Linked DNA regions of Homo sapiens. The protein of the gene in region 1 purifies or fractionates together with the protein of each later gene. This does not show direct contact. Each region holds a gene or a part of one and is shown on either strand. Other genes may lie near its edges. The genes, in order: ZNF69 and ALDH1A2.

Region 1 (3,821 bases):
GAGTCTCACTCTCTCACCCAGGCTGGAGTGCAGTGGCGCCATCTTGGCTCACTGCAACCTCCGCCTCCCGGGTTCATGCCATTCTCCTGCCTCAGCCTCCCGAGTAGCTGGGACTACAGGCGCCCACCACCACGCTCGGCTAATTTTTTATATTTTTAGTAGAGGCGGGGATTCACCATGTTAGCCAGGATGGTCTCGATCTCCTGACCTTGTGATCCACCCGCCTCGGCCTCCCAGAGTGCTGGGATTAGAGACGTGAGCTACCGCACCTGACTCTTTTTTTTTTTTTTTCAAACAGGGTCTCATTCTGTTGCCCAGGCTGGAGTGTAGCGGTGCAATCATAGCTCACTGCAGCCTCGAACTCTTAGGCTCAACAGATCCTTCTACCTCAGCCTCCTGAGTAGCTGGGACTACAGGCACACATCACAGTGACGAGGTAATTTTTTGTATAGGCAAAGTTTGCCATGTTGCCGATGCTGGAATAATCTCTTTATTTTTATTTTTATTTTTATTTTTTTGAGATGGAGTTTCACTCTTGTTGCCCAGGCTGGAGTGCAATGGCGTGATCTTGGCTCACCGCCACCTTGGCCTCCCAGGTTCAAGTGATTCTCCTGCCTCAGCCTCCCAGGTAGCTGGGATTACAGGCATGTGCCACCAGGCCTGGCTAATTTTGTATTTTTAGTAGAGACAAGGTTTTTCCATGTTCATCAGGCTGGTCTTGAACTCCTGACCTCAGGTGATCCACCCACCTCAGCCTCCCAAATATTGGGATTACAGGCATGAGCCACCATGCCCAGCCACTAATTTCTATTAAAACTAATTTTCTTCAAGTCCAAAAAAGTCTCAGGAAGGATATAAAATGATTATTATGCAAAAAGTCTACACTGAAAAACATCAATATAAAATGAAATAAATGAAAAAATGTCATGTGTCCTTAAAAGGAGATTAAATAGCACTATGATGTAACGTTTCTGAAATATGACTACAGTTATATTTTAGTCCATGAAATTTACAAGGCAGTTTGTTTTTTTCACTAAAATTAAGAAAAAACTACTTCTAAAAACCGAAATACAAGACAATGACTAAGAATAGCCAAGATGCTCTATAGAATATGGTTGGGGGGTGTTACGGCATGAATATTTGCATCACTCCAAAAAAATCACACATTAATAACCTACCCCCAATATAGTATTAGAAGTTGACATCTCTGAAAAGTAATTAGGATTAGATGACAGCATAAGAGTCGATCCTTTCTGAATGAGATTAGTGCTCTTATAAGAAGACACAGGAGAGCCGGCTTCCTCTCCTCTGTCACATGAAGAAACACAAGAAGATGACCATCTGCAAAACCAGGAAGCGGGCCCTTACCAGACACTAGATCTGCCAGCTCCCTTAACATGGACTTCACAACCTCAAGAACTGCCAGAAATAAATGTTTATCCCTTAAGTCACCCAGTCTATGGTAATTTGATATAGCAGCCCAAGATGACTAAGATAGACAGGCAATATACCCACTAAACACCACAGCTTTGAACGTTATACTAATTAAGAGAAAATGGTATTATCAGAGAGATGGAAAGATAGACCAATGGAAAACAGCAAATTGTGAAACCAGGGAATCTTTTTTTTTTTTTTTTTTTTTTTTTTTAATGGAGTTTCGCCCTTGTTGCCAAGGCTGGAGAGCAATGGTGTGATCTCGGCTCACTGCAACCTCCATCTCCCAGGTTCTCGTGATTCTCCTGTTTCAGCCTTCCAAGTAGCTGGGATTACAGCCATGCACCATCACGCTTGACTAATTTTGTACTTTTAGTAGTGACAGGGTTTCACCATATTGGTCAGGCTGATCTTAAACTCCTGACCTCGGGTGTTCCGCCCGCCTCAGCCTCCCAAAGTGCTGGGATTACAGGCGTCAGCCACCATGCCCAGTCTGGGCATCTGTTTAAGGTAATGTGAAACTATGACAAACCAGGTATTGCCAGCCAATGATACAAGTGGTGAACACTTAACAGAAAAAGCAGCGACAAATGGTTATCTACAGGAGAATAATCAGTTTACTACCCATCATCTCCACATACAATAATTTAATTAATTCTAGAGTTGCCTCTTATACTGAGTTCTTATAGTTATATGTTACCTTAGCATGCATTTTCTTTATGGATTTAACTTTCTCATAACGGAAAAAAACTTTATTCAAACTTAACAGTTTCTAGTTCTCCACCTCCTCCCATTTCCTCCATGTGGTCAACTCACATATATTTCTTACACGACTGCATTCTGGTGACCACCTCCCTGTGGGACAGCTAGATATAACCAATTTGACTTGTACCACTGACCCTTACACCCCACATGGATGGTACAGACCACCTCTTAATCACAGTATGACTTCACAGAACTAGTGCCTGCTTGCTCTAAATCCACCAGAAACAACTCCCTGAGCGACGTCTCCTTGTTCAATTCCCTGGACCCTGAGAAACGCTTTGGCCCACAGGTCCCTGTCTGTCTTGCTCCCCACCTGCTGGTTGAATGTGCATCCTGGATGTTCTCCCCACTCTGTGTTGCTCTGCAGCTGTGCTGCCCTCATCTCCTGGGATTGTGAGCCATGCACTGTATGTCATGGGCTTTGTTGAGTTGCCTCTTCTGTGTCTTACCTGATCTATGCAATCATTCTTGGATTTGGCTCTAGTGAAAAATGCAACGTAAAGTTAATTTGAAATACTCAAGCTGCAATCTATGAACTATTCTTTACAAGGGACAAGCCCACAGAGGGGCAATACTGGCTGGAACACAGTGATGTCTGACTCATGTGTCAGCACAGGTCACCCTATCACATGAGACATCTCTCCACCCCCATCCTGCTCACCGAAGCGCTCATGACTACTTTCCACCAACACCGCACTATGCCCCGCTGTGAACCTCAATTTCATATTCTGATTTGCAGGCTACTGGTCCACCCCGTTGGGGTGGGCTTTCCTTGTCTTTTGGGGTTTTGTCTTCCTTCACAGTTGACACAATCCAGAGGACAGGAATCATTTCTCCTTTCCCTCAATAGCACCATCCAACTGGCTGACCAGCCATGTGTCTCCAACTTACGAAAACTGGGACTGGGAAAGAAAAGCTGAGCATCTCGAGGGGTTGGCTATCTAGATGCAGAGTATACTAGGAGTCTCCTTCCATCGTAAGGCATTCAGCTGCTCTCTTGGGAGTCCCCATTCTCCTACCTCAGTCTGTCCCCTGGGAGGAGTGACTCAGGGGCTGATACTCACTAGACCCTCCAAGAGACATGGCAGCTGTGGGAATATTAGGTCACCCCATTCTACCACCCAGGACCAAGAAAACATAGGAGAGTGTGCTGAAGACACAATACCCTTTGAAGTTTCCAAAGGGGAGCCTCAACCAAAAGACAATCTGATAAGATCTCTGTTTTTAGGCCAGGTGGGGTATCTCATGCCTGTAATCCCAGCACTTTGGGAGACCAAGGCGGGTGGATCACGAGGTCAGGAGATAGAGAGCATCCTGGCTAACATGGTGAAATCCTGTCTCTACTAAAAGGCTCCTGTAGTCCCAGCTACTCAGGAGGCTGAGGCAGGAGAATGGCATGAACCCGGGAGGCGGAGCTTGCAGTGAGCCGAGGTCGTGCCACTGCACTCCAGCCTGGGCGACTGAGCAAGGCTCTGTCTCAAAAAAAAAAGATCTCTGTTTTTAGGATAGATGAAAGGAGGAGATGCATACAAATTTTCACACGGGAGTGTCTGGTGGTGATTCTCTGAACATTTCACATGAGAGGAAAGGAGAAGTGCTCAATGACTATTTCCCACCAACAC
Region 2 (3,821 bases), on another chromosome or scaffold:
TGGGCAAAGTCTTTATTTTTCCCTCCACTGCCGGCCCTTAGGCCACTTCACTGATACTTGTTTTCTCTCTCAAAAGCAGTCCCCTAAGGCAAGTGAAAACACTCAGCTAATATTCATGAAAGCATAACTATTATAGGTGGAAATGAAGGTGGGGACAGGAGGACTGTGTGGGTCGGGAAAAGAGAAGCGATATGAATCAGATTGTTTATCACTGTCTCTCAACACACCTAAATCACATTTATCACACAAAATTGTTTTGACATATTCAAAATTATTTATTTTTTAAATAATTACATTAAAGTCTTGGCCTCTCTCTCTCTCTCTCTCTCTTACTCTCCCAGTGTCACTCTCTATCCTCTGGATCTCTGATCTCTACCCCCTCTTGCCATAATTATCTGTTTCCTCTTTTCAAGGAACTTTTATTCACATACAAGTATTTATAGGATCCTTTTATCCTCTTTTTTTTTATACAAACGGGATATTATTCAGTCTTTTATATTTTGTTTTTCCCTCTTTTTTTTTTTTTTCCTGTAAAGCTAGGACGTCTTTTTAGTGGCTGCAGGTTATTCCATGGGCTCAATAAACAATGTTACTACTGTAAACCCTCCTACTAAGGGACATAGAAGTCACTTTCAGTTTAGGCTATTATAAATAATGCTGCAAAGACTATCATTACAAACATATCTTTTCATATCTGTGGAATTTCTTGATCTAAGTGTATGTACATTTCAGATTTTCAAAAATATTGCCAAATCACCCTTCAGAAAAGTTTAACAATTCATAATTTCAACAACACGCTATTTTTCCTACTCTTTAACACTGAGGTTTTTCCAACATTTTCATTTCAGCTAATCTGATAGCTGGAAAACTGCAACTTGTTTTGATTTATGTTTAATGATAGAGTGAACATCTTTTCATGCTTATATTGTTTGCTATTTTTCTATTGGGTTATTCTTTTTAGCCATTTGAAGAGCTCTATGGATATTAAGGAAATTAGGCCTCTGTCATAATATTGCAAAGATTTTTCCCCAATCTGCTACTTATCTCTTGACTTTGTTTTATGTATATTTTAAATGGAAGAAATTCAGAAGTAGGCTGGATTCTGCAACTGTATGAAATTAATTTAAAATATCTATTACGAGAAAAAATAGCGAAGATGTTGCAACTGTCCATAGGATGACAGTATGAAGTCTGAGTAATACTTTAAACATCAAATTAACTATTTAGCTTTGTATGCAGATAACTAAAGAATCTTCTGGATATCATTCTTTACAAGACTACAAATTACCATGCTTCTTCAATTTGTAAATCTCTGAAAAGGTTTTTCATGAGGAGCAACACCACTGATCAATAAGCTAGAGTTTCATTTACAAGAAAATCTTCTGCAACTGAACTCTCTAAGTTGGTTAAGGTGATGGGTTCAGGTGGATAGTCACAGACCACAGAATCAGAGAGTAATGTCAAGAAAGAGTGCAAATGGGGCTGAGGAAAAAAATTGGAAGATGAACAGAAGAGTACACGTGTTTATTTTAGCAGCACATGTAGGAACCTGGAATGGTTCAGAAAAAAAAACTCACAAGGCAACTACACAAGCACTGCATGGCAATTCATAAACCATTTCCCCCTACACATTTTATGATGCTTAGACATTTAGTTGTTTTACTTAAATAATATCACAAGTTACCGAAAAAAGTGAAAGGGAAGAAAATGTAGACAAAAATCTTAAAAGTCGGACCTCATGAGGAATTGAGTTTGACTCCATAATTGTGTCTCAAGAGAAACTGAGTTATGAGGAATTAAAACTCTCTTGGATAAACCGTTCACATATTTGAAAAGCATTTAGCTACAGGCTAACACAGGGAAAGAGACAGAATCTTCTAGTCCCTACAGTTAGTCTAAGTAGCAAATTAAAAAATAAACGCTATTTTTGTGCTTGAACTCTTCCCAAAAGAGCACTGAGTTGAAGGGACAAAGAAAGGAGGCTACTTTCAATAAAATTCAACATTCCTTCAGGTTAAAAACTCTCAATAAAGTAGAGGCATTGATGGAACATACCTCAAAATAATTAAGAGTCATTTATGGCAAACTCACAGCCAATATCATACTGAACAGGCAAAAGATGGAAGCATTCCCCTTGAAAACTAGCACAAGACAAGGATGCCCTCTTTCACCACTCCTATTCAACATAGTATTGGAAGTTCTGGCCAGTTCTTTCTCAGGCAAGAGAAAGAAATAAAGGGCATTCAAATAGGAAGAGAGAAAGTAAAACTGTCTCTTTTTGCAGATGACATGGTCCTATATCTAGAAAACCCCATTGTCTCAGCACAAAAGCTTCTTAAGCTGATAAGCAACTTCAACTAAGTCTCAGGATACAGAATCAATGTGCAAAAATCACAACCATTCCTATACACCAACAATAGACAAGCAGAGAGCTAAATCATGAATAAACTCCCATTCATAATTGATACAAACAGAATAAAGTACCTAAGAAATACAGCTAATAAAGGAAGTGAAGGACCTCTTCAAGGAGAACTAAAAACCACTAATCAGGGAAATCAGAGAGGATACAAACAAATGGAAAAACATTCCATGCTCATGGATAGGAAGAATCAATACCATGAAAATGGCTATAATGCCCAAAGTAATTTAAAAATTCAATGCTATTGTCATTAAACTACCACTGACATTCTTCACAGAATTAGAAAAAATAACTTTAAATTTCATATGGAACCTAAAGAGCCCATATAGCCAAGACAATCCTAAGCAAAAAGAACAAAGCTGGAGGCATCATGCTACCTGACTTCAAACTATACTACAAGGCTACAGTAACCAAAACAACATGGTACTGGTACAAAAACAGACACACAGACCAATGGAACAGAATAGAGAAATCAGAGATAAGACCACACATCTACAACCATCTGATCTTCGACAAACCTGACAAAAACAAACAATGGGGAAAGGATTCCCCATATAATAAATGGTGCTGGGAAAACTAGCTAGCAATATGCAGAAAATTAAAACTGGACCCCTTCTTTACATCTTATACAAAAATTACCTCAAGATGAATTAAAGACTTAAGTGCAAAACCCAAAACTATGAAAACTCTACAAGAAAATCTAGGCAATACCATTCAGGACATGGGCATAGGCAAGATTGCATGATGAAAACGTCAAAAGCAATCGCAACAAAAGCAAAAATTGACAATTTGGATCTAATTAAACAAAAGAGCTTCTGCACAGCAAAAGGAACTATCAGAGTGAACAGCCTACAGAATGGGAGAAATTTTTTGCAATCTATGCATCTGACAAAGGTCTACTATCCAGAATCTACAAGGAATTTAAACAAATTTAGAAGAAAAAAATAACCCCATTAAAAAGTGGGCAAAAGGACATGAACAGACACTTCTCAAAAGAAGACAGTCACGCAGCCAAAAAACATGAAAAAAAGCTCATCATCAATGATCATTAGAGAAATGCAATCTAAACCACAATGAGAAACCATCTCACCCCACTCAGAAGGGCAATTATTAAAAAGTCAAGAAACAACAGATGCTGGCAAAGGTGTGGAAAAATAGGAACACTGTTCCTATTTCCCACTTTGTTTACATTCCCACTGTTGGTGGGAATGTAAATTAGTTCAACCATTGTGGAAGACAGTGTGGCAATTCCTCAAAGACCGAGAACCAGAAATACCATTTTACCCAGCAGTCCCATTACTGAGTATATACCCAAAGGAATATAAATCATTCTGTTATAAAGATACATGCATGTGTATGTTCATTGCAGCACTATTCACAATAGCAAAGACGTGGAATCAAC

What was found.
Region 2: the proteins of ZNF69 (region 1) and ALDH1A2 purify together in Homo sapiens (affinity purification with mass spectrometry; one large-scale study listed by BioGRID and IntAct). This does not show direct contact.

Annotation. Positions count from the first base shown.
Region 1 is NC_000019.10:11,894,045-11,897,865, reverse strand, and holds part of ZNF69 (zinc finger protein 69), read right to left. Parts: intron 1-3,821.
Region 2 is NC_000015.10:57,995,991-57,999,811, forward strand, and holds part of ALDH1A2 (retinal dehydrogenase 2), read right to left. Parts: intron 1-3,821. UniProt on the Homo sapiens protein: Catalyzes the NAD-dependent oxidation of aldehyde substrates, such as all-trans-retinal and all-trans-13,14-dihydroretinal, to their corresponding carboxylic acids, all-trans-retinoate and all-trans-13,14-dihydroretinoate, respectively.